Linked DNA regions of Homo sapiens. The protein of the gene in region 5 purifies or fractionates together with the protein of the main gene of each other region. This does not show direct contact. Each region holds a gene or a part of one and is shown on either strand. Other genes may lie near its edges. The genes, in order: CGN, DCLK1, GIGYF2, AGAP1, CAMSAP2, KCTD3 and DNAJC3.

Region 1 (4,479 bases), about 49 Mb from region 5:
ACAGTAGAATGTCCACTCCTTTCTGCTCTTCCAGAGAATAGAAACTCTCCCATCCCTGTTCCTAGTCCTCAGTTCCTCCACCTCAAAGGCATCACTGCTATCAGTGTTTTTAAGTTTCTTTCCAGAAGTGGGATGATATACTTTGAGGTCTTCTATATTTTAAATGAGCTCTGGGAGAGAAGGCCCCCTTTTCTCCAGTGAGATGGAGGTATCTGCTCAGCAGGGTGTGGGTTCTGCCTTCCCTTGGTGGGAGGAAGGGAAGAAGGCACACAGTGTTTTTTTTTTTTTTTTTTGGAGATAGAGTTTTGCTTTTGTCACCCAAGCTGGAGTGCAGTGGCGCAATCTCGGCTCACTGCAACCTCCACCTCCCGGGTTCAAGCAATTCTTCTGCTTCAGCCTCCTGAGTAGCTGGGATTACAGGCATGCGCCACCACGCCTAGCTAAGTTTTTGTATTATTAGTAGAGACAAGGTTTCACCGTGTTGGTCAGGCTGGTCTTGAACTCCTGACCTCAGGTGATCCACCTGCCTCAGCCTCCCAAAGTGCTGGGATTATAGGCATGAGCCACTGTACCTGGCCACATGGTGGTATTATATGTATGTATGAAGATCAAGTAAAATCTTTTTTTTTTTTTTTGAGACAGGGTCTCACTCTGTCACCCAGGCTGGAGAACAGTGGCATAATCACTGCTCACTGCAGCCTCTCTCAAGCTCAAGTGATCCTCCCACCTCAGCCTCCCAAGTAGCTGGGATTACAGGTGTGCACCACCAGGCCCAGTTTATTTTTGTATTTTTTGTAGAGATGGGGTTTCACCATGTTGCCCGGACTGGTCTTGAACTCCTGAGCTCAAGCAGTCCACCCGCCTTGGCCTTCCAAAGTGGTGGGATTACAGGTGTGAGCCACTGCTCCTGGCCATCAAGCAAAATCTTTAAACTTTTAACAAAGCCTAGCTCCCCAGGGCTGTATCAGAGGAAGTGGATTCTTTTAGGTTAGTGAGTCTCAAAGTGTGGTACCTGGACCAGTAGCATCAGTATCACCTGGGGAACTTGGTTAGAAATGCAAATTCTCAAGTCCTAACCCAGACCTACTGAATCAGAAGCTCTGGAGGTTAGGTCCAGCAACCGGTATGTTAAAAGGCTCTCCAGGGGCCTTCTGTTAGTCTGAGAATCAGTGGTTTATCTAGTAGGAACTGACAGGGAAGTCAGCCCGCAGGTAGAAGTTTCATAGTTTCTAGTGAAGTCTCTCAGCCTAAACTCATTTCTTCATCTTCTAGGACTCCTCCTATTTATGGAGCAGGCACCCAACATGGCTGAGCCCCGGGGCCCCGTAGACCATGGAGTCCAGATTCGCTTCATCACAGAGCCAGTGAGTGGTGCAGAGATGGGCACTCTACGTCGAGGTGGACGACGCCCAGCTAAGGATGCAAGAGCCAGTACCTACGGGGTTGCTGTGCGTGTGCAGGGAATCGCTGGGCAGCCCTTTGTGGTGCTCAACAGTGGGGAGAAAGGCGGTGACTCCTTTGGGGTCCAAATCAAGGGGGCCAATGACCAAGGGGCCTCAGGAGCTCTGAGCTCAGATTTGGAACTCCCTGAGAACCCCTACTCTCAGGTCAAGGGATTTCCTGCCCCCTCGCAGAGCAGCACATCTGATGAGGAGCCTGGGGCCTACTGGAATGGAAAGCTACTCCGTTCCCACTCCCAGGCCTCACTGGCAGGCCCTGGCCCAGTGGATCCTAGTAACAGAAGCAACAGCATGCTGGAGCTAGCCCCGAAAGTGGCTTCCCCAGGTAGCACCATTGACACTGCTCCCCTGTCTTCAGTGGACTCACTCATCAACAAGTTTGACAGTCAACTTGGAGGCCAGGCCCGGGGTCGGACTGGCCGCCGAACACGGATGCTACCCCCTGAACAGCGCAAACGGAGCAAGAGCCTGGACAGCCGCCTCCCACGGGACACCTTTGAGGAACGGGAGCGCCAGTCCACCAACCACTGGACCTCTAGCACAAAATATGACAACCATGTGGGCACTTCGAAGCAGCCAGCCCAGAGCCAGAACCTGAGTCCTCTCAGTGGCTTTAGCCGTTCTCGTCAGACTCAGGACTGGGTCCTTCAGAGTTTTGAGGAGCCGCGGAGGAGTGCACAGGACCCCACCATGCTGCAGGTCAGACCCAGCCCCTCCCTGACTTCTAAATGTCAGCCCCTTCTCCCTTCTCATCAGCTTTTACCCACCAGCCATGAGCCTCCTTGCTAATTCAAATAGCCTAGGCAGAAACTCTCTGCCTTTTGTTCTCTACTGTATCTGTCCACAAAATAGGTGATATTCACATGCACAGGATATTTCCATGGGTAAAATTCTAAAGAAAATGGAGCAAGCTATAAAATCACTATTCACAAGTTTGGACCTAGTTGTCATTGCCACAACCATTAACTATGGCTCAGTCACCAGCATTTGCAAGGTCTGCAGAATATGTAAGGCGGGCTTGGAGGATAAGAGCAGTTTCCTTGGTGCTCTTGCCAAAATTCCACACCTTTCTCTCCTACTCAGGAATGTAAGTAAGTGAGGGAGTGACTTTACTTTGAGAGAAACGTAAGTCTGTTTTAAAAGTAAATTATTTATAAACTCTAGCATGTTAACTACCATTAGTGACAAATCACTTGTGGCACAGTTTGCAGCTGGTTGAGATGTTTGTTGAGGAAAATCTGGTTTACAGCAACAGTGCAGAGGTGCATCCTGTGTTGGCCTCTCCCTGGCCTGTTGCTCAGGCCTCCACAGCATGTTTTCCTTGCTGCATTTCAGGATTGTTCATCATGCTTGAAGGGACTTGACCTGAGACTGCCACTTCTCCTCCATCTGAACCCCACGCATGCTTCTGGCCTAATCTTCCTATTTCTTTCTTTCTTTCTTTTTTTTTTCTTTTTCTTTTTTTTTAACAGTTCAAATCAACTCCAGACCTCCTTCGAGACCAGCAGGAGGCAGCCCCACCAGGCAGTGTGGACCATATGAAGGCCACCATCTATGGCATCCTGAGGGAGGGGTGAGTGGGGGCCCCCCCAACAACAGAGGCATACCCCTCCTTCTTTTTCTTCTAGCTTTGTTTCCCATCTTCCCTGATTTTACCCTTTCCTGATCTCTGCTACCTCTTTCCTCCCCTAACCCTTGCTTCTATCCTTTTATCCTCTAGAAGCTCAGAAAGTGAAACCTCTGTGAGGAGGAAGGTTAGTTTGGTGCTGGAGAAGATGCAGCCTCTAGTGGTGAGTGGCCTTCTCTGGATGGGAGCAAGGGTCAAGGTTAGAGCTTTGAGGGCCTCAGGGGATCCAGACTTGGACTCACTCCCTTCCCCCACACCCCCCATATCTCTGGCAGATGGTTTCTTCTGGTTCTACTAAGGCCGTGGCAGGGCAGGGTGAGCTTACCCGAAAAGTGGAGGAGCTACAGCGAAAGCTGGATGAAGAGGTGAAGGTAAGGAAAGGTTAGAGGTGCCGGAGGCATGAAGGAAAACAGGGAAAAAGCCTTGGCCTGGAGATGGGCTGAGCTGACCCTTCTAAGCAATGGAACAAGCATGTTTGTGTCTTATGAGACAAGAGACAAGAATGTGTACTAATTCCAGGAAGGACTTCTGGGGTTCTGTGGGGGTTAGGGAGGCAGAGCACATTAGGAATCTACCTACCTTCCATTCCACTCCCTTTGGGAGTTCCCATCCTGGCTCTGCCCCTTACTAGCTATATAAAACTTAAGAAAATTACTTACATTCTCTGTGCCTCAATTTTTTTTTATCATTATCATAATAATGGCAATAGTAGTAGCTATCATTTATTGAGTATAATTTTGGTAGTATGTACTGTCCTGGGTACTGTAATCATTATAGTTACCCTGTGAATACCTATTCTGGACCCTTTTCTGATGAGAAAACTGAAGATCAGAGAGGCTAAGTAAATTGCCTATGGTAGTAAGTTGCAGAGAGGAATGAAAAAATCCGGGTCAGTCTTATTCTAAAGCCAGTGTACCCTTTTTAAAAACATGTCTTCTGCCTTTCATCATATTGGTTTGTGTGTAGTTGGTGCTCAATAAATGTTGGATTGTAACTTCCCTTGTCTTTTGGAAATCACTGTAGTGTAATGATTAAGTGATTGGCTGTGGAGCCAAACTAACTGGGTTCAAATCCTGGTTCTGTTACTTGTTGGCTGTGTAACTGACCTTGGGCAAGTTCTTTAAATGTTCTAAGCCTCTGTTTCCTAAATTGTAAAGTGGGGATTATGATAGTACTATATTAATTAACTATTGCTGTGTAACAAATTACCCAAAACTCAATAGCTTTAAACAAACATTTCCCAGCCGGGCGCAGTGGCTCACACCTGTAATCCTTTGGGAGGCTGAGGCAGGCAGATCACCTGAGGTTGGGAGTTTGAGACCAGCCTGACCAACATGGAGAAATCCTGTCTCTACTAAAAATACAAAATTAGCCTGGTATGGTGGCACATGC
Region 2 (4,479 bases), on a different chromosome or scaffold from region 5:
AAACCCATTAATTTTATCTTTGGAGTCTAAGGACCAGAAAATTCAAATGACATGTCGGTGGTTACGTGGTAAGATAGTGATGACCCTGGACCAAAACAGGTTTTCTGACAGCTCGTTCCACTGCGATGCTTCCTTTTGAGTTTAAAGGATTATTGTCTTTCTCTGATTTTTGAGGATATGCAGGGACTAATCTGTTCAGTTTAATTTTTTAAGTCCAATTTAGGTTAATAGTCATTATCTGTTTTAGACATTTAATGTGGAAATAGGACTGTTTGCGTCCACGGATGCAGCCTGGTATCTTATGCAAGCAGAGAAGGTCACCGACTCTGGGCTACACTTGCCTCAGGACTGACCCTGTTTGAACAGGGCATAAAGCCTGTCATTGCCTTAGAAATCATCGCCAATTAAAATGAGTTGGAGAAAAAAGACTGGGATTAAATGTATACCAAGGTGCAAAAAAAGCTAGCAGATCCTTTTTGGAGGGTTGATTTTTCTGAAATTGAGATCTCAAGGCCCTGATGATGAAGAAGTAGATGGCACAAAAGAATCTGGGAAAGGGAGGTTGGATGGAGTGTTGGAAGAGCTTGATTTCACCTTGAGTTCATTTTTACTCCAGAACTATTTGCTCAGGCCGTGTAACTCAACTGGGTCCAGGAGGGATGCCATATAATCCCTCCCTCTCTTGTGCAGGTAGCAGGAAGCACCCGTTGCAGCCCCGTTGGAGTTGGGGGCTGCTCTCCCCTGACCGCACACTGACAGAGCCCTCTTGTCCTGCTTTGTAACCAGTGTATGTATGTGATTCAAGGCTGGGGACTTCTCCCTTTTTGCTTCCCTTCATCCCTTGGCAGAAATGCCAGCCTGATCACAGTGTGACTGGCCTTGAGAGCGTGCAGAGGAGCCTGTGTTTATTTTGTGGGAATTCACATCCCTTTTCGGTGACTTGACATGCTGCCAACATGCCTGTGGACTTGGCCTTTTTCCTTCTATTCAGAGGGTGGAACTTCCAGTAAATTAAAGGAGAAGAATTAACATGAAATTTTACTGTTTCAGCTTTAATTTCTGTGCCCTGTCCTTTGCATGACCTTTGGAAATCCAAGGTTAAATGAAACATTTGGTGGTATAGTCTAGGGGATCTGGATAAAAGTTATACGCAAAGTCAGGTGCATGACCAGTCAACAAGCCGTCCCTCTGAGGGCCGGTAGTACTGTAGGGAAAAATATGGCAAGATCTCAAAGCACATCCTAAGACAGCCATGGGTTGACACCTCACTCTGTTCCAGAGTCACTTGTGTAGCATCTATGGGGGTTGGGGTACTTCAATCAGTTTCCCACCCAGAAATGATCTTTACTTAGAAGTGGCCGAAGATACTCCAATGACTCCCATCCACCAAGGAGAGGGTCTGGGAGGTGGTAGATGACAGTACTCCCTTCACATCTAGGGACCAGCAAAATTATGGCATGCTTGTCACCATCTTCTTTGTCTTTTACTGCAAAATAATGCTTTCTCTGAGGGACTGATGTCTTGACTGAAGGTAATAATGATAGCTCTCAGTTATTGAGCATGTGCCAGGCACTGGCCAAATCCCTGCATATATGAATACATTTAATTCTCACAATGATCCTAGGAGGTGGGAACTGTTATCCTTATATTAAGGTGAGAAAAGGAAGGTACAGTGTGGTTAAATGATCTGCTCAAACTCACAAAGAAAGAAATGGTAGAGTTAGGATTTGAACCCAGGAAGGCTAGTGCCAAAGCTTGAGCTCATAACTACCTCTAAGATGCTGTGTGCTATGAATTCAACTACTATATTGAGTTTTTCCCCTCAATCAATGTGAAGTAACTGCCGACTGAATATTCTGATGTTTAAAAATGACTTTTTTGGGAAAAAAAAATTATCTGATTGAATGAATGGTAACTTTGGTACAGTGTGTGAGTTCACCATGTTGGCTGCATTTATTTTTTGAATTTTCATTTAAACAGATTTTTTTTCTAATTCATAACACTGACAATTAGCATGCAGCTGCACTTAGTGTTTAAATAGCTGGAAATTCATTTAGATTCGCCTCTTTGTCAATTACATTTTTTGCTTAGTCTGTTAAAATGCAAACCGTTGGTTCATATTCATCATTAGGCTCATATCTCTGACTTTACATACTAATTTTATGTAAACGTCAGTGCATGTTATTAGCTTTTCATTTCCCCTTCCAATATGATGATGTTTGAGTTTTAAATTAAATCCTTTTAGTGGGTGCAGTGGCAAGTGTATTGGACTTATAGTTATTTTCTTGCTCTTTCTCACTTGCTCTCAGACTAAAAATTCTGAATTACAATATTTGTGAATTTCTTTATCTATGACAGTCTTGTGGTCACTGTCACTGTTTTGTTTTTATCTATGGATTATTATGCCTAAGTGTGGTTTAAGCATGTTGGTAGAGCTAGCTGTATGTATTTAGCTGAGCCAAAATCATATAGTCAGTGTGAATGTGTGTGTCTATGATTGTATGTGTGTCACCTATGCACATATGTATGTATATACACACATATTCACACACATACACTTAAGAGCATTCCAAAGGTGACACTCTTGTTTGCTTTCAAAATGGCCTTAATATGTTTTTTTAAAAAAATCATGATGCTTAATAAGGAAAGTTGAATTGCAGGCCTATTTCCGCAAGTGATTCATCTTGAGACTTGGCCTCATTTCCCCCAATTTTGCACCATCTATATTCTACTGTAGGTAGGTAAATGTTGTGATGATAAATAAAGGTGTCACATTTAAAGCCTTTGAACTCTTAGGAGAAAGATGTAATGTAAACCTGGAGCATTGATGGATTGACTGATTTGTCCTTCTTTTAACATCTTATGAAAATGTACATGTGAGAGGGCCAGAACATTTTCTTTAAACATTAAGATAAAAACTCTGTAGATATGTAATCTTCTGGATACAAGTAAGTGAATTTGTTCATCAGATCTGCGCTATTAGAGATGAGTCCCTCTTCTTCTTTGGTTCTCATGTATGCCTTGGCTTTTCACTAACCCTGTATGGACGTTGCCTGACTCTGGAGCTGCAGTTTGCATAAGGGCTTTTTCCAAGTTTCTATCATAATCCCCCTCTCAGGATTAAACCCATGCTTCACCCCACAGTTAGGGAATCTCTTTCCTACCACAGCCTCTGGGTTACCCATCTTTTCCTATTCCCTAATAGAGCATCCTCTACTTTATTTCCCTATTTCACTGGCTTTCTCTATGCCTCTCCTTGCTATAATGAATTTTTTAAAATTAATTTTTGAATAGATATAAAATTTGCTCTTCCTAAAATTCCTCAGAGGGGACCACTTTACTAGTTTCTTTTTCTTTTCTTTTTTCTTTCTTTAAAAACAAAAGCAAAAACAAAAAACAGGGTTTTGCCATGTTTCCCAGGCTGGTCTCAAACTCCTGGGCTCAAGCCATCCACCCACCTCAGCCTCCCAAAATGCTGGGATTTCAGGCGTGAGGCACTGTGCCCAGCCTACTAGTTTCTTGAGGGTCCTCTCAGAGATACCAGTGCATGTGAAGGACACATATACAGCAATGCCCCCTTATCCTGGAAGGAAATACGTTCTATGACACCCAGTGGTTGCCTGAAACTGCAAATAGTACTGAACCCTGTGTATACTGTGCTTTTTTTCCTGTGAATACATACCTATGATAAAGGTATGTATATGATGCAAGGTATATGATAAAGTTTAATTTATAAATTAGGCATGGCAAGAAATTAACAACAATAACAAATACAATGGAACAATTATAACAATATACTATAATAAAAGTTATGTGAATGTGGCGTCTCTCTCAAAACATCCTTTTGTACTGTACTTGCCCTTCTTGTGATAGAGATGGAAGAAGCAAGATGGCGTGAGAGTTCATCACACTACTCAGAACTGCATGCAGTTTAAAACTCCTGAATTGTCTCTTTCTGGATTTTTTCATGTAATATTTTTGGACCTCAGTTGACTGCAGGTAACTGAAACCATGGATAAAGTGGGGCAGTACTGTAATTTGCCCAGAAGGTAACTTTTTATGCCAACAGTTCTGCACCTTGCTTTGTGTACTTAACAATATATCCTGAAGACCTTTCCATACTGGTACATCCAAAACTACTGTGTTCTTTTACTGACTTCATAGTACTCCTTTATACAAAGTTACCATCATTAATTTAACCAGTCTTTTATCAATATGCTTTTAGGTTGTGTTCAATTATTTGTTATTACAGACAGTTGTGTGATGACTATCCTTGGATAGATGTTTTCCAGTCATGTAGGAGAATATCTTTAGGATAAATTCCTAGAAGTAATATTGTTGGGTAGAGAGGTACAAGCATTAAAGTTTTAAGCACTATTTGCAAAATTCCCCTTCATAAAAGTGGATTCAGTTTACACTCCAACCACTTATGTATGAAAGTGGCCGTTTCTCTATCCTCAACAAGATGTTTTGAAATCA
Region 3 (4,479 bases), on a different chromosome or scaffold from region 5:
TGCACTCCAGTCTGGGCGACAGAGCGAGACCCTGTCTCAAAAAAAAAAAAAAAAAAAGTAATTCTGAGGCCGGGCACTGTGGCTCATGCCTGTAATCCCAGCACTTTGGGAAGCCGAGGTGGGCAGATCGCTTGAGGCCAGGAGTTCGAGACCAGCCCGGCCAATATGGTGAAATCCCATCTCTACTAAAAATACAAAAAATTAACCGGGCATTGTGGCTTGAACCTGGGAGGCGGAGGTTCCAGTGGGCTGAGAGTGTGCCACTGCACTCCAGCCTGGGCGGAAGAGTGAGACACAGTCTCAACAACAATAAAAAAAGAAGTAATTTTGCATTTCATGTTTTTATTCTCCTTTTTAATACTGTTAGCGATTTACATTTTTATTTGCAACAGCAGAATTTAATCCCATCAAGTTAATTTTATGTAGCTACTGTGTATTTACATTCCATTTAGTATACTGGATATTTATAACTATTATCTAAAAACAGGAATCCTCAGCTAGCTTCTGTTTTTATGCAACAGCAAAGGCGCCAGCAGAGGGAGTTGATGAAAGCTCTTCAGCAGCAGCAGCAACAGCAACAGCAGAAACTCTCAGGTTGGGGGAATGTCAGCAAACCTTCAGGTACCACGAAATCTCTTCTGGAGATCCAGCAGGAAGAGGCCAGGCAAATGCAAAAGCAGCAGCAGCAGCAGCAGCAACACCAGCAACCAAACAGAGCTCGTAACAATACGGTGTGTGCATTTTCCTAAGCTGTCGTTGTATGGACTAGTATTATCTTTTCTGACTGTCTTCTTATCTTTTTAACATGATTCACGATAATCATTTTTCTCTTTTTCTTTAACAGCATTCCAACCTGCACACCAGCATTGGGAATTCTGTTTGGGGCTCTATAAATACTGGTCCTCCTAACCAGTGGGCATCTGACCTAGTCAGTAGTATTTGGAGTAATGCTGACACTAAAAACTCCAACATGGGATTCTGGGATGATGCAGTGAAAGAGGTGGGACCTAGGAATTCAACAAATAAAAATAAAAACAACGCCAGTCTCAGGTAGGGCTCAAAATGACCACACCTATGCACCTTGGTTGGTTGGGAGGTGGGGATGGAGGAAGTGGGATGTTGGGTGGGCAGGAAAAGGTAGTTATTGAGTTTTTGCTTACCGTTTTCATCTGTGTTCAAGCACATGCAGTCATAATTATGGTGATTGCTTTCTTCCCCATAGAAACACATTCGTATTATTTCTTGGGGCTCCTGCTGAGCACTTATTCTATCGCCTAGCACATGGTAACCACTTAATAAATATTAGGAATAGTATAATGTTTTTGTTGTGTTGTTGAACATTTCTCCAAGGTATTCTCTAGATACCTTAGCATTTTTCCTATATTTGTATTTTTAAGTAATTTATGCTATTAATATGAGTATTATAAAATACCTCTGTAATGACCTTAAACCTATTTATTTTTATAAGTTAGTTACATTTTCATCTTCATCTTTCTTTCTTCAATATACAGTGTTGTTGAACGAGCATGGGTTTTAGTGTTAAATACATGAACTCAAATCCCAGCACTACCACTTATTAGCTGTGTGACCTTGGGCAAGAGGGAACCTCTTTGGGCCTCAGTTCCCTCATCGGTAAAATGAAGATAATAATAACAACTTTATGCATGTAATTGTAAAGATTAAATGAATACATGATAAGTAGTAAGTGCCTGGCACATAGTAACTACTTAATAAATGGTAGTGTTGTCAGATTGTTTCTTCTTGATTTAGGGCCTAACATATTATGAATAGAACAATAAATTTCTGTTAGTTTATTGAGCATCTTTGCCAGGCACTGTGCTGTAGGCCTTTTCATAGAACATCTTTATTACTTATGATAACCCAAAAAAGTTGTTAGTACCGTTTTACAGATGAGGAGACTGAGGCTTAGTAAAATTAAACAACTTACCTAAGGACACGTAGGAAGAATTTCATCATTTTTTCTAAGTAGAACCCCTGTATCCACAAATTAGGATATATTAACTGAGGCTAGATTTTAAGGGTATATCCAATCCAAATATTTGAATTTTTTTCTTTTTTGGAGCCAAGCATTGGATTATTTACTGGGCATCCATCCAGTATTGCCAAGACATTATTTATGGTGTTGTACTATAATCATATAGTAACAGTTTCTGGGAATATAATATCACCCTATTGTTTTGCTTTAGTAAATCTGTAGGTGTGTCTAACCGGCAGAATAAGAAAGTAGAAGAAGAAGAAAAGTTGCTGAAGCTCTTTCAGGGAGTAAATAAAGCCCAAGATGGATTTACGCAGTGGTGTGAACAGATGCTTCATGCCCTTAATACGGCAAATAACTTGGATGGTAAGAATTGGGGAGGGAAACCCGGCATGTGGAATGACAGAGCAGGACCCACAGAGAGGCTGGCAAATTTGAACAGTGGGCCAAAAGTCAAAAGATGAAATCTAAGGAGGTCAACTGCTGCACCTGCCATAGGAACTTGACTCTTTAATAGTATTACTTGTGAGAAAAGTCCAGTAATACTAAACTCAAATAGATTATTGGTGGTTGTCAAAAAGTAAATGCCATCTTAGACTGCCTTAATGATACACAGGACAGAGGAGGTCTTAGTTCCATACTGTTCATTTTATGGGGAACATTGCCAGCTATGTCAAGTTAAAAAAAGTAACTCTCATGCTGGGGACAAAGGTCAACCTGGACAAGTGATGGCTGAAGTGATGTGACATCATTCCCTTTCTACCTTTGGGGGAGGGAATGGGAATTGTGATAAAGCAAGTACACTTATTTTGTGTAAGATAAAACTAGGACCAATGTGCAGAAGTGAAAAGGCTTTGGCACAGTTTAGAGAAAAACTTGCTCATGGTTAGCTGTTTACAAACAGAACTGTCTCCCATCCCTGAATATTTGAAGAGAGACTGGTCAACATGTCAGGATTCCCCTAACTAATAGGCTGAATTGAATTAATCCACCTCTGATACCCTGTCTAAAGCCAAGAAACTGTGAAAAATAGCAGTAAAGGAATTAAAGAGTTCCTTTGCAGCAGTGTAACAATATCTAATGGTTTAAAAGCCTACAGAGAAAACAATTTTAAATAACAGTAATGGCTGCCATGCATTAAGCACCTACCATGTGTGCTAGGCACTCTCTTGGAGTTAACATGCAGCATCCCAGTTATTTGATTAGCAGTGATTTTTAAAGATACCTTTACAAGATAGGTGATATTATCCCCATTTTATAAATTAGGAAACAGAGGCTCAGAATGGTTAAATAACTCATCAAGGTCACACAGCCAGCAAATTTCAGAGTCAGGTTTTAAACCCATGTTTGTCTAACTCTGATACTCATGCTTTTCTCCTATACCACACACTGCTTACATTTTCCATTTGATTTCTCTCTAAAAAATCTCAGTGGATTGAAAGTTCCAGGAAGATATAGCTGTTTTCTTTAGTGTATGTTGTAGTGCCTGACACATATCATAGGAGTTAATAAATACTGATTGAATTTGAGGGTTCTTAAGGAAAGAATGAATCCCCAAATTACTTCAGCCTTAGTCAAGTAACTGTTTCAGTCAGTATAACATTCAGTGAAATTAAACATGTGGTATGGATGTTGTGATTATAGTGTTTTTTTCATTTCTATAGGGTAGATAAAAGAATATTTAAACACAATTGCTGCATACTTACCAAGTGTCTGTCATTAATGTTTGATTAGGTATAAAGATACATTAAAAATGGAAACTGATTTTTGTAAGTTCTCTTTCATTATTTCATTGTTACCCTTATCTTCTCCCCTCCCGTTTTGCAGTTCCCACATTTGTTTCTTTCCTGAAAGAAGTAGAATCTCCTTATGAGGTCCATGATTATATCAGGGCCTATTTAGGAGATACTTCTGAGGCCAAGGAGTTTGCCAAGCAGTTCCTTGAGCGCCGTGCCAAACAGAAAGCCAACCAGCAGCGTCAGCAGCAGCAGCTGCCACAGCAGCAGCAGCAGCAGCCGCCACAGCAGCCGCCACAGCAGCCACAACAGCAGGTATAAAGTAGTGTGGTGTATGCGGTACCTCTGAGGATTAATACCTTTAGATGTTGAGTAACCCAAGAAATGAAAATTAATACAAAGGTACCATTTTTGTATATCCAATAACCATGCTTTAAAAAATGTGTATACTTCATATTTTCAAATTACTTGTCCAGATACCTTTGTGTATCTCCCAAATAGCAAGTACAACCATTCATTTTACACTAGGTTTACCAGTTCCATTTTTCTTGGTTTGTATTTGTGTCATAGTTAGATTGCACATTTCAACATGTCAAACCCATAGATCTGGTTTTGAAAAGTTAAAACTTAAAATGTTGAATTTTCCAGTGTTCAGGATGCACTGTATTGAGTACTGACAACACTGCAGCATGCCAGATATTTCATGTTGTTGTTGGGGATGTAAAAAATACAGCAGTGATTCTCATT
Region 4 (4,479 bases), on a different chromosome or scaffold from region 5:
TAATAAATAAGCCTCAAAAACACTACATATCAGCCAGACACGATGGTTCACGCCTGTACTCCTAGTGCTTTGGGAGGCTAAGGTGGGAGGATCACTTGAGGCAAGGAGTTCGAGACCAGCCTGGCCAACATAGGGAGACCATTGTCTCTACAAAAAAATTTTTAAATAGCCAGGTGCATGGTTCACACCTGTAGTTCCAGCTACTCAGGAGGCTGAGGTGGGAGGACCACTTGAGCCCAGGAGATGGAGGCTGCAGTGAGCTATGATTGCACTACTCCAGCCTGGGCAACAGAGCAAGACCCTCTCTCTAGGTGGGGAAAAAGGTACATATCCAGTACATATCCTTTCACTTAGAACTTCTACTTCCAGGAATCTATTCTTAGTAAATAATCATGAGTGTGTACCAAGACTTAGCAATCATATGTTCTTACAGCATCGTTTATGATAGAGAAAAATTGGAAGCAACTTAAATGTCCATCAAAGAGAACTTGATAAGTAGGTCTTCACTAAGTGGAATGCTATGCAGCCATTTAAAATGATGATGTCAGAGAGTATGTGACAGCAGTGAGCAATGAACAAGTTTCGTTAGGCTGGAAAGGGCAGGTTTCTATGCAGCAATATGTATTACGCTGGCTTTTTAAAGTACATATGTGTATGTAGATGTGCTTAAACAACAGGCTAAAAGAACAGACATCAAAATGTTAATAATGCTTAACTATGGATGGCCGTATGATTGTTTATTAATTTTATGTTCTTTTTCCCCTCTCTGTATTTTCTAAACTTGCTTCAATGAGCATGTATGTTTTTAAATCCTTTTTAAAGAAGACCATAGAGCCAGGTGTGGTGGCTCACACCTGTAATCTCAACACTATAGGAGGCTAAGGCAGGAGGATCACTTGAGCCCACGAGTTCAAGGCTGCAGTGAGCTATGATCACACCACTGCACCCCAGCCTCAGCCACAGAGCGAGACACTGGCTCAAAAAATAATAATAATAAATAAATAAATAAAAATAAAGCAAGCCATCAAGTGTAAGGTTAAGAATCAGCACTCCCAGCTATACTCGTGTTTCTCCCTGCCCCCACCCTGGCGAGTGGCTTTGTCACTGTGGCAACCGAGGGTCTTCAGATGACATGTGCATCTCCCAGGGTGACGTGTGGTATGAATGGGGTTTTCTGACAAGGAACCATGAGATATGTCTTACATTGCTGATGAAGCCCTAACCCTGGGCTTATAAACGGATTATTTCTTTCTCATTCTTCTTACCAAGTAGACATGTGGCTACTGCCCAGAAGGTTACCCATTTACCTTCTCCAGGTTACCATGGTCCATGCGTATTCACAGATGATCCAGAACTCTCCTCTTTGCTCATTTCTGGCAGAGTCCGTCTCAGCTGATGAGTTAAAATGTGACATTTCCTCCCTCCCCCCGCCCCATGCATGATGATTTCTTCTTCAGTTATGCTCTTTCCCAAAGACATCAAAACAAGAGTGATTGTTTAGAAATTACCCTCGTCCTACATTTGCTCCCAATCTGTTTGATCTTTCCCTGATGTTATCAGTGATGTGCGTTTCTCCCGGGGTGCTTACGCCTTGTATTTGTGTCTTCCTCCGTGCCCAGTCCCGGCTGACGAGCCAGAGCGAGGCCATGGCCCTGCAGTCGATCCGGAACATGCGCGGGAACTCCCACTGTGTGGACTGCGAGACCCAGAGTAAGTGTGTGCGGTGGTAGCAGGGGCTGGCGCTGTGTAGCTGGAGACCACATGGTCCCACTAGGCCCGGGTTGCAGGGGACTCACATCTGTCCTGTTTGGCAGATAAGAGTTAACTGCTTTTAGGAAATTGAGATATTTTGTTTGGATTTTACCTTAACAGAGTGCCTTCCACACAAGCCTCACCCCTGGCTGCAGGGTGCGTTTCTGTGAGTCTTTCCTTGCCTTAGGCATCCGATGAGCAGCAGTCATACCTGAGGTGCAAAGGATTCAACCCCACACCCACAGCCTGTGCCAAATCTAGGAAGCCCAGGAATTCAAGACGAGCCTGGGCAACACAGGGAGAACCCGTCTCTACAGAAAATTAAAAATTAACTAGGCGTGGCAGCTGGCTTACTTTTTGCTTAATCAGTGATCACTTGTTGATTTTTTTTTTTTTTCATAAAAATAGAATATAATTGGTTCATTCCTGCCTAGAGATTCTTGGGTATTGTTTTTTTAAATTCACAATCATATGTTCTGGGTTTTGCCATCAAATGATGTCTTGTTTTTTTTTGGTCTTAAATCCATTACCCACTAAAGCCTCTGATTGAACTGATAGAAGTTGTAATTACTGCTTTGTGCCATCGAGTACCCCAGTTTTATTTCATGATTTCCGTTGTCTAATCCATACTATTACTTTCCCTTTGAAAAAGTCATTTTGTTGTTCATAATCTTGAGAGTAGGGACTTATTTTCATGGTTGCAGTCCCAGCCCAGAGACAGTATTGGAGACATTCAGTAAATTTCTTCCCTTCAGATTTTTTTTGTTAAGTAGTGTTTTGAAGAGAAGGAAGTTCAGTTCAAACAAGGTAAGAGGTGCTGGTACCAGGCTGGGTGCTGCCCAGGAGTCAAACGTGCATGGCGTGGTGGGTCCTGCCATCCTGAAGCCTGAAATGCACTGGACAAGGCACCAACCTGCTGACCATGGAGCTAAGCGCTGGGGAGAGCCATCGGGGGCATGCGGCGGTCTTGCCACCCATGCAGGAGCTGTCGTGTCAGCAGGGCTCTGGAGATGGGCAGGGTTTGTACAGGGAAGGGGCCGAAGGAATCACTGTGAGCAAAGGGAGTGGCTTGAGGAGAGCTTCTCTGGGTGGTTGTAGGATTAGAGATGCTTTTTGGGCTGGAAAACCAGTAGAAGCTAGTTGGAGTGTGAGTGCCAAGTGAAACTTTTTCCAGCTTTGTTCTTCATTTGTAAGCAGAGAGACATCATTGGAGTTTTAGAGCAGGAAGGAGATGGACCCTGAGCTCCACTTGGGGAGATGGATCTGGCCAGACCATTTTGAACATACTGGAATAGAGGCAAAGCAGGGAGGAGGCCAGCCAGGGTCGGCTTGGCCGGGAAGGGAGACAGGAGCCCAGGACTGCTCCAGACAAAAGGGAAAGGAAGCGCCCCCTCCAAGAGTCCACTCAGCAGCATAGCAGGCAGGGGAGAGATCAAAAGTCTGTCTGCGGCCTCTCTGGAAGCCTGTCCTGCGGGTGAGGGAAGGGGTTCTTCTCCAGGTATCTTGAGGTTCTTCTTTAAAGTACCTCCTTATGTTTGAATGTTTAAGTTTTACTTTCAAATGTGTGGTGAAATGAAGTTCGAAGAGAGAAGCAGTTATTTGAAGTGTGTTTCTATCAAAAAGTTTTAAAAGTAAGAGCTTTTTTAAAAGCACGAATCTGAGAAATATTAGAACATCCATTAAGGAAAATGCCTGCAGTTGTTTCCACCGTGCGTCTGAAGGTCGCTTTAAAAGGAAAGCCATCCGTGGCTTGCGGGGACCATGATACCTGGCAAATCGGAGGTCGCAGGTCCTGTCTGAGATGAGCTTGTGCATGTGAGTGCGGATGGGGGGTGGGAAAGGGAGGCCAGTGCAGGGGAGGTGTGGGCCAGTTTGTTCTGAGCAAGACCACCTGAGCAGATGGACAGGGACAAAGGGAAAAGGCAGAGTTTGACAATTCAGGAGAAAGAGGCGATACCAAGCACGCATTTGCTAAATGTGTGGTCTGTGTCAGCCCGGTGCCAAACCCTCCCATGCGCTGTCTTTTCATTCTGCAACCCTAGTAGTTGGTGCCCCTGTGGGCCCCACTTAAAGGGGAGGAATTGAGGAGCCTGAAGGGTCAAGTCATTTGTCTGAGGTCACAGAAATAGCAAGTCCCAAAGCAGGATTCAAACCCATCTGTTGTCCAGCCTGCTGTATTTTCTCAAGAATGGAAAGGCTCAGAAGATGTAGCACATTGGCAAGGATTTGTTAAGTAAAAATACCCAATTTTGGTTAAAGTACCGGGATAGGTACAGTGCCCACACTGATGATGAACTGTAAACACCTCCATGGGGCCTTTCGACAATGTATATAAAAAGCTTTTGAAGAGTGGATGCCCTTGACTCCAGCTGTATACTCCAGGAACTAAACCAATGGGATTGAGTAAGGCGGGTGCAGAGATCTGTCTTTCCAGATGTTCATCACAGTGCTTTACATGGCAAAAAATCAGAAGCATCCCAAATGTCTAACAATTGAAGAGCAGTTCATGGTGATGTCTTGTCTTTGCTACCTTTAAAAATCATGGAAAAAGACTTAATTGAGCCTGGGCACGGTGGCTCACGCCTGTAATCCCAGCACTTTGGGAGGCCAAGGTGGGCGGATCACCTGAGGTCAGGAGTTCGAGACCAGCCTGGCCAGCGTGGTGAAACCCCATCTCTACTAAAAATACAAAAATTAGCCGGGCATGGTGGCATATGCCTGTAATCC
Region 5 (4,479 bases):
CTGATTGAAGTTTCCCTCTCAGATTTGAAACCCCCTGAAAAGGCTGATGTACCTGTTGAAAAATATGATGGAGAAAGTGATAAAGAACAATTTGATGATGACCAGAAAGTATGCTGTGGATTCTTTTTTAAGGTGTAGTATTAATCTGCATAGTTTTGGGCATCTTCATTAGATGAGTGTGGTTGTGTTGGATATTTTTTTTTTCAGTTGACATGCTTGCTTCTTTCAGTAGCAGTCCCTTTTGATACAAGTTCATCCCCATTAACTATAGTAACATTCAAGCACACTGTGGTTTCCAGTATGGACTCAAAGCTGTAATAAATCCTTTTATCACATGTTTAGATGTATTCCTTGGTTTTGCTCCTCTACTGCTCTTTCTCACTCACAAAAGCCTTTTAAAAATTAAGCTACTCAGATCTCTTCAGAGAATGATTCCATTTTGTCTCTTAATCATGTAACACTGCCATTTTTTTTAACAGAATGCTACTGTAGACACTAATAGATATTAAAATTTACTGCCTAGAGACTCTGTTCCTTGCAGAGGAAGGGAAACAAAGGGGAAGAAAATCATTAGTATAAAACAGGCAGTACCTCTGTTGCTTCATTTCTATTCCATTTATTTACACATCTTCACCACCCCATTACTCATCTGTTGGACTATGGTTACAGCTTCTTGACTGGGCTGTCTGTCTCCAATCATGCCATTCCAGTCTTCATACTGCTACTAAAGGTGATAGTTCCAAGAGCATAGCTCCAATTGAGTCTCTTTCTAGTCAAAAATCTTGCCTGTTGAATAAAGTTCAAACCCTTTAGCACAACATTCAGGGACTTTCACAGATGAACCTAAATCTTTTTGTCTAGCTTCTTCCCCATAATTTTATTTTGTATTGTTCTTTAAGATTAACTTCAAGCTTCATCTAAAGCCTTTTATAATTCCTTCAGTCGAGGTCAAATGTTTCATCATTTGTGTATCTATTGTATCCTTAAATATACTCATACCTGTCCTGTGTCCCGGAGTTTTCAACTGTTTTGTATGATTTGCTTTGTCTCTTAGACCATGACCTCCTAGAGGTGCTGCATCTTTTTATTTTTATTTATTTATTTATTTATTTTTTGAGACAGAGCTTCGCTCTTGTTGCCCAGGCTGGAGTACAATGGCGCAATCTCGGCTTACCACAACCTCCGCCTCCTGGGTTCAGGCGATTCTCCTGCCACAGCCTCCCTAGTAGCTGGTATTACAGGCATGCACCACAAAATAAATTTTGTATTTTTAGTAGAGATGGGGTTTCTCCACGTTGGTCAGGCTGGTCTCGAACTCCCAACCTCAGGTGATCTACCCGCCTCAGCCTCCCAAAGTGCTGGGATTACAGGCATGAGCCCCCGTGCCCAGCCAAGGTACTGCATCTTTTTATCCCCATAGCATAATAAAGTGTCTGGCAAACTACAATATATGTAATTTGATAGATGAAGACATATGAATGTTTGAACTAATTGCTTGAATGGTATCTTCTGACTTTCTCCATTCAGAGTTAAATCTCTCTCTGGGTTTCCATACAAAGCCTGTTGTTTGTACCTCTTCTCCTTGTGATTTTTTAGGCTCCTTGACCTGAGGTACCATATATTTTAATATATGTAATATCTGACACTATGTTGTGAGTATGTTAGACACCAAAGAAATGTTTATTGAATTAAGCATTGGCAGGGACAGTTGACAAGGAGACATTAAGACAGTGAACCACTTCTACAACAGCTTGTTACTTTGCTGAATTCTGAAGCATTTTGGAAGCCCGCTGAGAACTAGGGCTGTCCCTAAGGATTCAGGTAGAAACTAGGGCAGGCCCAGGAGGCCTATAGATAATGAACTAGCTCTCAAATTAAAAGTACTGTAGAAGGGAAGTATAATCATCCCCATCTTTTCTTCAATGGAAAAATGTTCATTATAGTTCAGAACCTATCAAGCAGACTGTCAGTACCTCAACTTAAAATCATGCAGCAATAGTTTCATTTATGTGCTACAACATTGGGTGGCTAATTTTGGGATGTTTTTACTTGAGGTATTTTTACTGAGCTTATATTTTAAATAAAATTTAAATGCAATTTTAAAAATTGGTGGGGGAACTACCTACTGTAAGTTATTAAATTAGGGTTAAAAAAAATTTGTGCTTTTTTGTTTTGTTTTTATGGTTGTTCTTTGCAAATCTCATAGGTTTTGACAGAGTGTAATTAAATAAGTTTGCCTGTCCTCTTTTTTGATGGAACTGTTACCACTGTAGTTCCGTTCTTCCTTCATAATTTCTCAACCACACCCACATTCAGAAGGGTTGTAATAGTTCAAACTTTCAGTTATAGGACTAACCACAAAATGTGACTACAACAATTGAAAATGAGAATATTGGTACCTAAAATGTTTGATCGTTTTCAATGAAATTCGTTCTTAGGATGATCAAAAAGCAGAAAATGATATGGCAATGAAACGGGCAGCTTTGTTGGAGAAAAGATTAAGAAGGGAAAAGGAAACTCAGCTCCGGAAACAACAGTTGGAAGCAGAAATGGAGCATAAGAAGGAGGAAACAAGGTAAAGGAAATTGCTGGCCCAGTGCTAGATCTGAACTTTAATGATGCATGGGCATATTTAGAAAAAGTTGGTAAGTACTCAAAGAGGTGGTCTCTCATTAATTTTTATTAACAGATTTCTTTCAGAGAAGTTTGTAGTATAGATAGACAGCTGGATCAATGCTATTTTTTGGTGCTTTGTAGAAATCAATTTATTTTCCCAAAGTATTGCCTAATTTTATATTTTTATCTTAAGTTTAAGGCATCTCATGGGAAAGTTCTCTAGAAACATTAATTTAAATAATTATATGTTTAAAAAACATTAAAATAACTTTCCTGGGAGATACACACACACACACACACACACACACACACGACCTAAATTATCTCAAATACCTTTATTTTTATTTATTTATTTGACTCTTCCTTCCCTCCTTTATTTACTTATTTATGCTTAATCCCATGTCTCAGCAGAATCGTCAAGTACCTTTTAAATGAACCATTTATTCACCAAGGTGATGAAATAGAATTCTCCTTTCTCATATCAAATACATAACTCTCTCCTGTATGGTTTGTCTTTGGTATGCAGAATAAGAACTGTAACCATTTGATTTCTTAGGCGTAAAACTGAGGAAGAACGTCAGAAGAAAGAAGATGAGAGAGCACGCAGAGAATTTATTAGGCAAGAATATATGAGGCGGAAACAACTGAAACTAATGGAAGATATGGATACAGTAATTAAACCCCGTCCTCAAGTAGTAAAACAAAAAAAACAGCGACCAAAATCTATTCACAGAGATCATATTGAATCCCCCAAAACACCAATAAAGGGTCCTCCAGGTAACATAGCTTATTATGAAGAGTCTGTTCATAAAAAACACCAGCTTGATTGGTTTGTCATACTAACTTGGTTGTACTTTGATGTGCAAAATTGGATACACAGTTTGAGATTGTGCATGCTCCCTTTTGGAAAACCAAAATGAGCAAATGAAGTTTTTAATAAATTAAATGTATTATGTGTGCATGCATATATTCAGTAGAACAAATGTGAATGCTAAAAATCAAATCTAAATATTAATCTATTAGGGAACTGTGCCCTCAGATATAATCTCCTTGAACTATTAACTGCCCTTTACATACTTATAAATTTAAATAAATGTTATATGCATGAAATGTACAAGAAACATGTTGGTATAATAAGGAATGCAAGATCAAGAGTTCACAAGTCCCTCCTTCAAGATAGAAATGGTTGAAAATCCAAACTTATAATATCTGGAGTTGAGAGAATATATTTTCTTTAAAAGTCAGTATACATACTCATTATTACTATTATTATTTTTTGAAACGGGGTCTCAGTCTGTTGCCCAGGCTAGAGTGCAGTGGTGTGATCATGGCTCACTGCAGCCTCCACCTCCCTGGGTTCAGGTGATCCTCCCACCTCAGCCTCCTGGGTAGTTGGGACTACAGGTGAGTGCCACCATACCCAGCTAACTTTTTTGTATTTTTTGTACAGATGGGGTTTCTTCATGTTGTTCAGGCTGGTCTCGAACTCTTGGGCTCAAGTAATCTGCCTGCCTTGGCCTCCCAAAGTGTTAGGATTACAGGTGTGAGTCACTGCGCCTGGCCATACTCTTATTTTTAAAAAAATCTTGGGGGGCAGGGATAAATTCGTAAAAATAAAAGAAATCTTTATTAAAACCAAATGCCATGGAAATTTTTTAGAGAATTCTCATAGTTATACTAAACCTGAGGAAAAATAACATAATATTGACTGTTTAAAGAGAACTCTGTTTTCAAGCCTGTAAAACTAATTGATATAATTTTCTACCTAGAATTTAGATATTATGAAATTTTTTTTTGTTATTGTTTTTTTCTTTAGGATCACAGTATCACGTCTCATATTAACACTTTCCTTTTGGAACGCAA
Region 6 (4,479 bases), about 15 Mb from region 5:
TATATTGTTTATACTAAGTATTAAGTTAATTGACTAGTTTGTTTATACACACTTTCATACCACATACCAAAGTAAAGGCTCTGGGATCTGGGATTTTAGCAAAAGTAGGAGGCATGATTTCATGGGACAGTAGAAATTGAGCCTCCTACAAAAATCTGAAGTTTTAAGTTTCTCAGTCCCTGAGAAGACTGGGAAAAGTTTGCCCAGTAATCTTGGAACAAGAAAGTTTGATGTGTGTTTGGTGTCTTGGAATGGGAAAAGGAGATGCAAGAGGAAACCATTAGAAATTGAAACCAACATATTCAAATTAGGAGTGAATTGAAGCACAAAGACTTGCCTTTGTTCTATGAGAACTCCAATTTGAGAAACTGATCTAGGACTATTGACATTTCTAGATACAGATATGACACCAGTTAGAACACTTTCTCAGAAGAGAGCACACAAGAATCCTGTAGAAAGAGTAATTTCTGCTAAAATAACCTCCCAAAACTTATAAACTTCACATGGAAACAAATAACGAAAAGTCATTAAACAAGAAAAAATTTGCAATCCCCAAATTGGAAATAATGGAACAATTAGAAAGCTGCTGTATTGAAGGAATAGGACAAATCAGAAAATGGAGGGAAATAAAATACTGAAAATTAAAAGGTCATTGAAAAAAAATTTTTAATTTTATTTAATGGTTAAATAGAAGCGCAGCTAAAAGAAAATTAGTAAATTGACAGACACGTCTGAGAAAATCATTTCCAGTTGAGCCAAGAGTGAGATAGAAAATATGAAAAAGAAGGAAAAAGTGAGAAAGCATTTCAGATAGGAACAGACTAGAGGAGCCATATTGAAAAAGATAACAACTGCTAACATTTTGGAGAAATGAAAATGGGCATGAATTTATTGATTAAAGAAATGTACCAAGTCTTGGCAGCCTGAATGTTTAAATGTGCTATAATAAAAGATAAATTATGATAAAAAGTATTCATAGAATAGTGACAGTTTGCCTGTCATTAGACTTTGATCAGATTTCTCATCACCAGTAGTAGACACCAGAAGACGACAACGGGCATTCTCCAAATGGTAGAGAAAGTAACTTTCAGCCTAGGTTTTCATACACAGCAAAACTATCATTCAAACCTGAATGAGAAGGGTTTTTTTTCAGAGAGAATTTTTGAAAGGACTACTAAAGAAAAATGCCTTTTGAGAAGAACGTTATATTTGAAGGGGAAGAAATGGAATGCATTAAGCAGTGATTAGGAAAGATGTTGGTAAATACGATGGTAAATTTAGATAAGTGATTATTTAAAAAGTAATGGACGAAGGTTAAAACATCCTGTAAAAAATAATGATAAGTTTACAGGTATAGAGATTGTAGTTAAAAGATTCTAGGGGCCTTATATGGGAAGATAGACTGGTATTTTAAAACTGTAAATTTAAATTTACATGTAGAAATTAGTGGTAATCACTGTGTGCTACCTTATAAGAGAAAAATCCACTTCCATTTTATATTTGTGACCACATGACTGAACCATGCATACTAATCAGTATGGTTTCTTGGATTCTTGCCATGAAGTTGTTAGGACGAAGAAGAGGAGGCCACACAGTGGCTGCTTCCTTGCTTGTGCTGGGAGAGAAGAACTCAGCAGTTGTAACTCACTGTAACTCTGCTTATCCTCTGCTTTCTCTGTTTTCCCGTATGGAGGGGTAGACATGGAAAGAAAGGCAGATCATGATTAAAGGTTACAGAAGGAGAAGTAGCAAGGCTTTAATCCTAGAGCCCATCCTCCCAGAGAATAAATGGTAAAAATGTTTGCCTTTGTGCCTTGGGAAGCGCTAGGCTCCTGCTGCTCTTTCATTGAAAAAAAAAAAAAAAAAAGAATGTATCCAAAGGGAGAAGAATCTCATGGCCTTATCTGTCCCCATTTTCCTGCCATGAAGAATCTGGGGCAGGAGTTGAAGCCCTTTCCTTTAGTGCTAGAACTAAAATGATTTAGCTAACTTGAGTAAGAAAATTGGTTAGTGGTGTGTAAAGCAGTCTCCCCTCCATCCTTTAGACATCTTTACTGATATCACTGAAAAGTACTCAATGTTTTCCTGGTATAAAATGTTTTGGCATTGGCTTTAATTAAAAGCCTGACCTCAGGATAGGGCATGATGATTGAGTTCTTTGAGATATTTCTTGTGTAACTCATAACTGCATGACATTGAGAGGGTACAGAAATTAGGATTATATACAGGAAGAGCTTAGAGGAATGATTATTTCCAAGTTTTAGTTATTTCTGTTTTTAATTAGAATGAACCTAGATTCTGTGCTTTTTTTACTTGCTCTTCAGATATTCCCTTTCCCCTTGCCCTACCTAACTCATAGTTGACTTCAGTCTTCAAGCTTCACTTCCTCTGTGAACCTTCCTTGATCTTTGCTCTTCACCCACCAGCACTGAGATGGCAGTTCTTCCCCTCTCTCCTGTGATTGTATTGTAGTCTATTTTAGTGCCTGTCACACTATAATTGTCTGTTATTTTTCTTTCTCACAAGTTACCAGCTCCTAGAGAGCAAGGGGATACCTCACATCCCTTATCTCTAGTTCATTGTTTGTTTTCTTGGATAATATGTGGTACATAAAAAGTACTTAAATGTTAAGCAGATAATGTTTAGATTTTAACTTTTCAAATGAAAGCCAGGTATAGTATATGAAAAGTAAAAGTCCCTTAACATTTTTAACTTTTAAATTATTGGAAATCTTTTAGACTTGTATGCAAAACTTGGTGTCTTAGTAATTCAAATGTCATCTGTGAAGAAGCTTAACAGGCTTGTCTGGCCTGGCTGTAAACAGGGAAGATTCATTTTGATGAATAGTAGAATATCACTCTAGTAAAATAGTATTGCAACTATCCTAGCAAACACATTTTTTTTTTTTTTTGGATACCAAGTCTCACTCTGTTGCCCAGGCTGGAGTGCAGTGGCACAATCCCCGCTCACCGCAACCTCTGCCTCCCAGGTTCGAGCAATTCTCCTGCCTCAGCCTCCCGAGCAGCCGGGATTACTGGCATGCGCCACTACGCCCAGCTAATTTTGTATATTTAGTAGAGACAGGGTTTCACCGTGTTAGCTAGGCTGATTTCGAATTCCTGACCTCTGGTGATCTGCCTGCCTCGGCAGGTTTCTTTTAGCACAAATATGGGAAGGTATTAATTTGTAAACTAGATTGATTTTCCTGGAAAAACTAATTTTTTTATTCCTATACTTTAAAAAAATAAATACAAATGAGACTTTGTTTCCCTTGCCATTTCCTAGAAAAGAAGTAACCTTTAGCAAGGAGAATGAAAAATAGAGAATACCACCTTTTCAGAGAAATAATAAATTATCAAGGGAGCAAGTACTTTCTGGAAATCAGTTGCTTTGTTTACTAGTTCTGATTCTGTCACTTGCTTACTGTGTAACTTTGGACAGGTCATTTAATCTCTTGTATGAGAAAGGGAAAAGAGAGGGACCTGGTCAGACTCGGCCTTCCAGTTCTAGTGGGCTGCAATCTAGTGATCACATGCAAAAAAAGAGGAGACAACCAATCGAAATTGAGAAAGGAAAGTACTGCTGTGGGAAATACAATTTAAAAAAAATATTTTGAAGGAAGTATATTGATGGTTCTCCTCTGTAGCATGTTTGTGTATATGTGTGTGCACGCGTGCACCTAAAGAAAGTTTATTTCCTAAGCCCTACTAAAATTGGATATTGGTTGCCTCTTTACCAGAAGAATCAAAGTTTTGAGGAAATTGACCAGAAAATAGAAATTATAATTACTATCTAACATCTGATAATACTCTCACTACATCAGGTTCAAGATGTTGTTCCTATAACTAGTTATGACACTGCTGGATCATTCCTTCTGCTTGGATGTAACAATGGATCAATATATTACATAGGTAAGTGTTCAGTCACTTAAAATGCTCCTGCTTAATGTAATTTTTTAAATGAGAACAAGAAAACATTACCTTTCAGTTTTAAATAGATATGCTATTTATTTTAATGCTGTTTAAAATTTTTATGTTTTAGATATGCAGAAGTTCCCCTTGCGAATGAAAGATAATGATCTTCTTGTAACTGAACTGTATCATGATCCTTCAAATGATGCTATTACTGCTCTGAGTGTTTACCTCACACCCAAAACAAGTTAGTACATGGCCAATTATATACATTCTTGACTTTTTATCTTTTTATTCATTAGTTTATTATGTGACTAGGTCAAATTAAACTGGTTTATTTCTTTTTGAGAACTGCAGTGCCTAAGGATTTCATCTCTACTAAGTCTAAAATTTGTATTCAGTTTTATACTGAAGTCAAACATGACCAGTAAACAAACATAATTTGAGGTGGAAAATTGGAACTCCCCTTACGCTGAATTGCATTTGTTGAGCCATATTATTATAATGTTAGCTGAAATTTCAAAAAAAAAAAAAATTCTGCACATTTGTCTTCCTATTAAAATAACTA
Region 7 (4,329 bases), on a different chromosome or scaffold from region 5:
TACATTTTTTTGGTTCAGTACCTGAAGAAGAATACTGAAACTTGAATCTATAAATTCCTATGGACCCTTTTAATATTAAACACAACAAATTAAAAGTTGTTATAGGTAAAATAAGTTCAGATAAAATAGTGGTGGTATTTAAAATAATATTGCTGAAGTGCAGATTGAAATACTTTTTAAACAACTGAAGTTCTGAGTTTTTATAGGGAATTTCATGTAACAAGACTGGTTTAGAAACGTAAAGTTGCGCAGTCAACATAAATAAATACAGAATGCCATGTTCTCCACTTCTAAGTAAAGACAGTGGGCAGCTTCTGTTTCTCCTTCTATCAAGGCTTCACCCTATCTTAAAGGTCTGTGGTGCCTCCCACGTGGGACCTGTCTGCTGGTATGTGTTAAACAGCAGACCGGCCCTTCTACCAGATCTTGATGCCTCTGATTTTCTCCTGCCTACAAGAAAATACAGGCAAGGTTAGTCAGGTCTGGCTATATTTCCACTGTTGTTTCATTTAATAAGATGGCATCTCCTCTTGAGATATGTTCTTCTTACCTTTTAAGAAGATACTATTTAAGAAGTGAACTATTCAGTCTTTGTATACTGAATGCTTTTTCCCTAAAAAATGTTAATCAAGAATATTGAATATTTATGGCACTCTTGATGCTGCATTTGAAAGCTGAAGGAATTACTTTAGATAGATAGGAATTGCTACCTTTATTCTGGAAAGGTTTTGTTTCTGCCTCAAAGCATTTTGAAGTGTTTTAACCATTAAAGGGTCTAATTTTTTTTTCTTAATGAAATCAAGCATTTTAATTCACTGTGGGAGGCATCCTGACCACGGACATCCATAACAGCAAAGCACAAATCGTTTTCGTCTGTAGTCATATCCTGAAACATAGGTGGACAAATTTTTAACTGAGAGACAAAAATCACATAGTTGAATTGAGCAGAACACTTAAGTGCTTTCTGCATCTATTTAGGAGTCTATTTCTTACCAATAAACTTGACAACGCATTTGGAAAACTAGTGAACACCTTACAGCTTTCATTTTGCTTTAATGTTTCAATTCAAGCCGGTGTAAAAATAATTTCCAAGGCATTTCTGTTTATTCTTTAGTAATCTCACTACTGGCTATGTCAGCAATATCTTTTTCAATCTGGTTCCTTTTGTATATGATGTCACTGTGACCTCTTTGAAATATAGTGATGGCTTTTACCTACTTTGAAAAGAATTTTCACATAGAGTCAGAAAAAAAAGGAAATATCAAATCACTTGCCTTTCCACTTGGAGAGCACGACAGTTGCCAACAACAAGGGGTCAAGGGCCGCACAGGAGATGTGTGGGGGCCTGGCCACCTCCCACCTGCTGCCCAGAGGCTTGTTTGCATTTTCATTTTTTCTCCACTTGTAACAACCATAGTTTCAGCTCCTAAATTCTTATCATGGATTTACTTAGTCATCTTAACTGACCTGCAGTTACTTGCCTGTTTTCAGTGAAGAGAGAGAAGCAGCTCTGGTGCCACATGCCAGTGCCATGGAGGGAAATGAATTCTCTGCAATCTGTTGTTTCGCTGATTCATGAAGAAAGTAACAACTGTTGAGTTTCAGCCTTGATGGCTGTCGGCAGTTTTCTGGTGTCCACCCAAACGGAGAGACAGTCACTCCTGCTTACCCTAATGTGTGACTGAGAAGCAGCCTGGGTGTGTAAAGAGATAGTCATTCCCCCTGCCTGTCTCACTGTAGGGTAGCATTATCCACTGTAAAACCATACTACTTTCATTTTCCCTTGGGGACTACAGGTGCCAGGTAACCTTTTTTTTTTTTTTTTTTTTTTTTTGAGACAGAATCTTGCTCTGTTGCCCAGGCTGGAGTGCAGGGACACCTCCCGGGTTCAAGCAGTTCTCCTGCCTCAGCCTCCAAGTAGCTGGGACTATAGGCACGCACCACCATGCCTGGCTAATTTTTGTATTTTTAGTAGAAATGGGGTTTCACTGTGTTAGCCAGGATGGTCTTGATCTCCTGACCTTGTGATCTGCCCGCCTTGGCCTTCCAAAGTGTTGGGATTACAGGCGTGAGCCACTGCGCCTGGCCATCAGGTAACCTTTATGGCTCTTTCAGGAAAAGTGAAATCAGAGAGGCGTACCCTAGCCACAGCTGTTGTATTCTGCTCTTCTTTCCTTTTTGGTGAGCTTCATGGGTGGAGTTATCAGTGGTCTGTACTTTGTGGATATTTTGCCCAGCAGGAAGTATTAGACACATCAGTCTAGAAGCATTGTGAAAAGGTTCCAAAACGGGAGACAAAATTTAATTCATTCCTCAGTTCTGAAAGTTTGTGCTTTCTTACCATGAATAGATGAAAACTTGAAAAAAATCTTGACAGTTTACTAATGTGAATCAGATGTAACGTACTACTAATTCTACAATGCCTTTCTCTTTAGTCAGTATTAAAAATCTTTTTTAAAGTATTGGTATGAAAACAAATTTTTGTTGCCCTGATAATGGAATTTTAAAACTACCCACAGTTTAAGAGAAAACATAACTTGGTAAAAAAGGTAGCCAATAAAACCACAATTTGAAATTGATACCATTTTCTACTCACAATGGATGATGAAAAATTTCACCTTTAAATGGGTCAGAAGTTGTCTTTGACATTTACCATGAAAAAACTACATAAAATGGCTCCCTGGTGAGGTTACAGACACGGCCCTGGTGATGGGCGTTGCAAAGTTTTCACTGAGCACACAGCAATGGTATCACCTAGAGAAGTTCACGCAACTTTGTTGAATGTAGTTGACTTTTCCAAATTTATAAAGGAAGGAAGAAGGCAAATGTTAATTTGCCAACAACGAATATCCTTTTTCTAAATCAGATCATTCCTTTTTTGTTAGTGGCAGTTTATCCTGTAATTTCAAATGACGTTAAGAGGTGGGATTATTTGGGGGTTTTTTTTGTTTGTTTACAGATGATCTCATTTGCTGAATGATTGATTTAAGAGTAAAATTAGCCACTGCGTGGCTTTGTGTATAGTAACCGGTTTTGTTGCACTTGTCTGTGGCTGAAACACTTACCTGCAGTGGAAAGCCGAGCAAGGAGGAGGTAAACATTGGAGATGTTTGTGAAAATATTACTCTTGCTGTGAGGTTTTAGTTTGTTTTGAATGAGAAAAGACTAAGTAACTTAATCCATCTCAATGTAGTGTTTTAATAAAAAAGGAACCTAATATTTGAAATGGGTCTCAGACATGTCTACAAATATGGGTACTATTTTTATGCCCGTGTATTTTCACATTTAATAAAAATATTTATGGTCATATCAGTATTTCCTTGCTTTTGATTCATTTTTGTCCTTGAGTATAAAATTCTAAGAAAGTCCGTCTTAGGAAAAGTCTATTATTTCCAGCTTTGCTTCACGCAAAACCAGTGACTGAGGTGACAAAAGGGCTCTTCCTTTACACAAGTTGACAGGGAAGGTCAGAACACACAAAGCAGAAAGGGCTAAAATAAAATCTCTTAACCCTCAAAAGTCCTAGGACAACTAAGGACTTAAAAAGTGGACAAGTCTTCCATTTCAGTGCTATTAAAATGTAACACTTAAATTGGCTTTGTCTGAAGATTTTCTCTTCTCTTTTATACCCCATTTGTACATTTCTGTTAAGGTCCTAAGTTGGGAGGAAGGAAGGACACTATAGCCTATCTATCTCAAATTTCCAGCTACAAACAGAAGGAACTGCCTTCTCAGTTAATGTATTCTGCATATCTTAAGAAAGATCCAAGGAGAGCTACGATATGTAAATGTATACAGAACTTTTCCAGAAAGCTCAAACCTTCCTTTTTTTTTTTTTTTTTTTGAGACGGAGTCTTGCTCTGTTGCCCAGGCTGGAGTGCAGTGGCATGATCTCGGCTCACTGCAACCTCTGCCTCCCTGGTTCAAACAATTAACTGCCACAGCCTCCCGAGTAGCTGGGATTATAGGTGCCCACCACCACACCTGGCTAATTTTTTTGTATTTTTAGTAGAGATGGGGTTTCACCATCTTGGCCAGGCTGGTCTTGAATTCCTGACCTCGTGATCCACCTGCCTTGACCTCCCAAAGTGCTGGGATTACAGGCGTGAGCCACTGCACCCGGCCAAAGCTTCCAAATTCTTAATCGTCATGATATTGTAGCAATATATGAGCAGCCAGCCTGAGTCTGAAGATAAACAGCATGAACACGTGGAGCAGGCATGAGGGCTGTAGGGAAACTGCAAGAAGAAGGGAGGTCCAGGTCCTCTTCCCAGAGCCTCAGGAGCTCTCATTGAGCAGGCACCAAACCCGCTCCCTCCCTACCCCCAG

Evidence for each region.
Region 1: the proteins of CAMSAP2 (region 5) and CGN purify together in Homo sapiens (affinity purification with mass spectrometry, with the first as the bait; one large-scale study listed by BioGRID). This does not show direct contact.
Region 2: the proteins of CAMSAP2 (region 5) and DCLK1 purify together in Homo sapiens (affinity purification with mass spectrometry, with the first as the bait; one large-scale study listed by BioGRID). This does not show direct contact.
Region 3: the proteins of CAMSAP2 (region 5) and GIGYF2 purify together in Homo sapiens (affinity purification with mass spectrometry, with the first as the bait; one large-scale study listed by BioGRID). This does not show direct contact.
Region 4: the proteins of CAMSAP2 (region 5) and AGAP1 purify together in Homo sapiens (affinity purification with mass spectrometry, with the first as the bait; one large-scale study listed by BioGRID). This does not show direct contact.
Region 6: the proteins of CAMSAP2 (region 5) and KCTD3 purify together in Homo sapiens (affinity purification with mass spectrometry, with the first as the bait; one large-scale study listed by BioGRID). This does not show direct contact.
Region 7: the proteins of CAMSAP2 (region 5) and DNAJC3 fractionate together in Homo sapiens (co-fractionation; one large-scale study listed by BioGRID). This does not show direct contact.

The regions. Positions count from the first base shown.
Region 1 is NC_000001.11:151,517,234-151,521,712, forward strand, and holds part of CGN (cingulin), read left to right. Parts: intron 1-1,272; 5' UTR 1,273-1,286; coding exon 1,287-2,159; intron 2,160-2,932; coding exon 2,933-3,033; intron 3,034-3,180; coding exon 3,181-3,250; intron 3,251-3,362; coding exon 3,363-3,458; intron 3,459-4,479. UniProt on the Homo sapiens protein: Probably plays a role in the formation and regulation of the tight junction (TJ) paracellular permeability barrier.
Region 2 is NC_000013.11:36,120,854-36,125,332, reverse strand, and holds part of DCLK1 (serine/threonine-protein kinase DCLK1), read left to right. Parts: intron 1-4,479.
Region 3 is NC_000002.12:232,843,525-232,848,003, forward strand, and holds part of GIGYF2 (GRB10-interacting GYF protein 2), read left to right. Parts: intron 1-521; coding exon 522-731; intron 732-844; coding exon 845-1,050; intron 1,051-2,207; coding exon 2,208-2,362; intron 2,363-3,823; coding exon 3,824-4,047; intron 4,048-4,479. UniProt on the Homo sapiens protein: Key component of the 4EHP-GYF2 complex, a multiprotein complex that acts as a repressor of translation initiation. In the 4EHP-GYF2 complex, acts as a factor that bridges EIF4E2 to ZFP36/TTP, linking translation repression with mRNA decay.
Region 4 is NC_000002.12:236,039,132-236,043,610, forward strand, and holds part of AGAP1 (arf-GAP with GTPase, ANK repeat and PH domain-containing protein 1), read left to right. Parts: intron 1-1,619; coding exon 1,620-1,710; intron 1,711-4,479. UniProt on the Homo sapiens protein: GTPase-activating protein for ARF1 and, to a lesser extent, ARF5. Directly and specifically regulates the adapter protein 3 (AP-3)-dependent trafficking of proteins in the endosomal-lysosomal system.
Region 5 is NC_000001.11:200,850,103-200,854,581, forward strand, and holds part of CAMSAP2 (calmodulin-regulated spectrin-associated protein 2), read left to right. Parts: coding exon 1-132; intron 133-2,438; coding exon 2,439-2,575; intron 2,576-3,172; coding exon 3,173-3,393; intron 3,394-4,479. UniProt on the Homo sapiens protein: Key microtubule-organizing protein that specifically binds the minus-end of non-centrosomal microtubules and regulates their dynamics and organization.
Region 6 is NC_000001.11:215,598,044-215,602,522, forward strand, and holds part of KCTD3 (BTB/POZ domain-containing protein KCTD3), read left to right. Parts: intron 1-3,823; coding exon 3,824-3,911; intron 3,912-4,041; coding exon 4,042-4,158; intron 4,159-4,479. UniProt on the Homo sapiens protein: Accessory subunit of potassium/sodium hyperpolarization-activated cyclic nucleotide-gated channel 3 (HCN3) up-regulating its cell-surface expression and current density without affecting its voltage dependence and kinetics.
Region 7 is NC_000013.11:95,791,674-95,796,002, forward strand, and holds the end of DNAJC3 (dnaJ homolog subfamily C member 3 precursor), read left to right. Parts: 3' UTR 1-3,315; downstream 3,316-4,329. UniProt on the Homo sapiens protein: Involved in the unfolded protein response (UPR) during endoplasmic reticulum (ER) stress.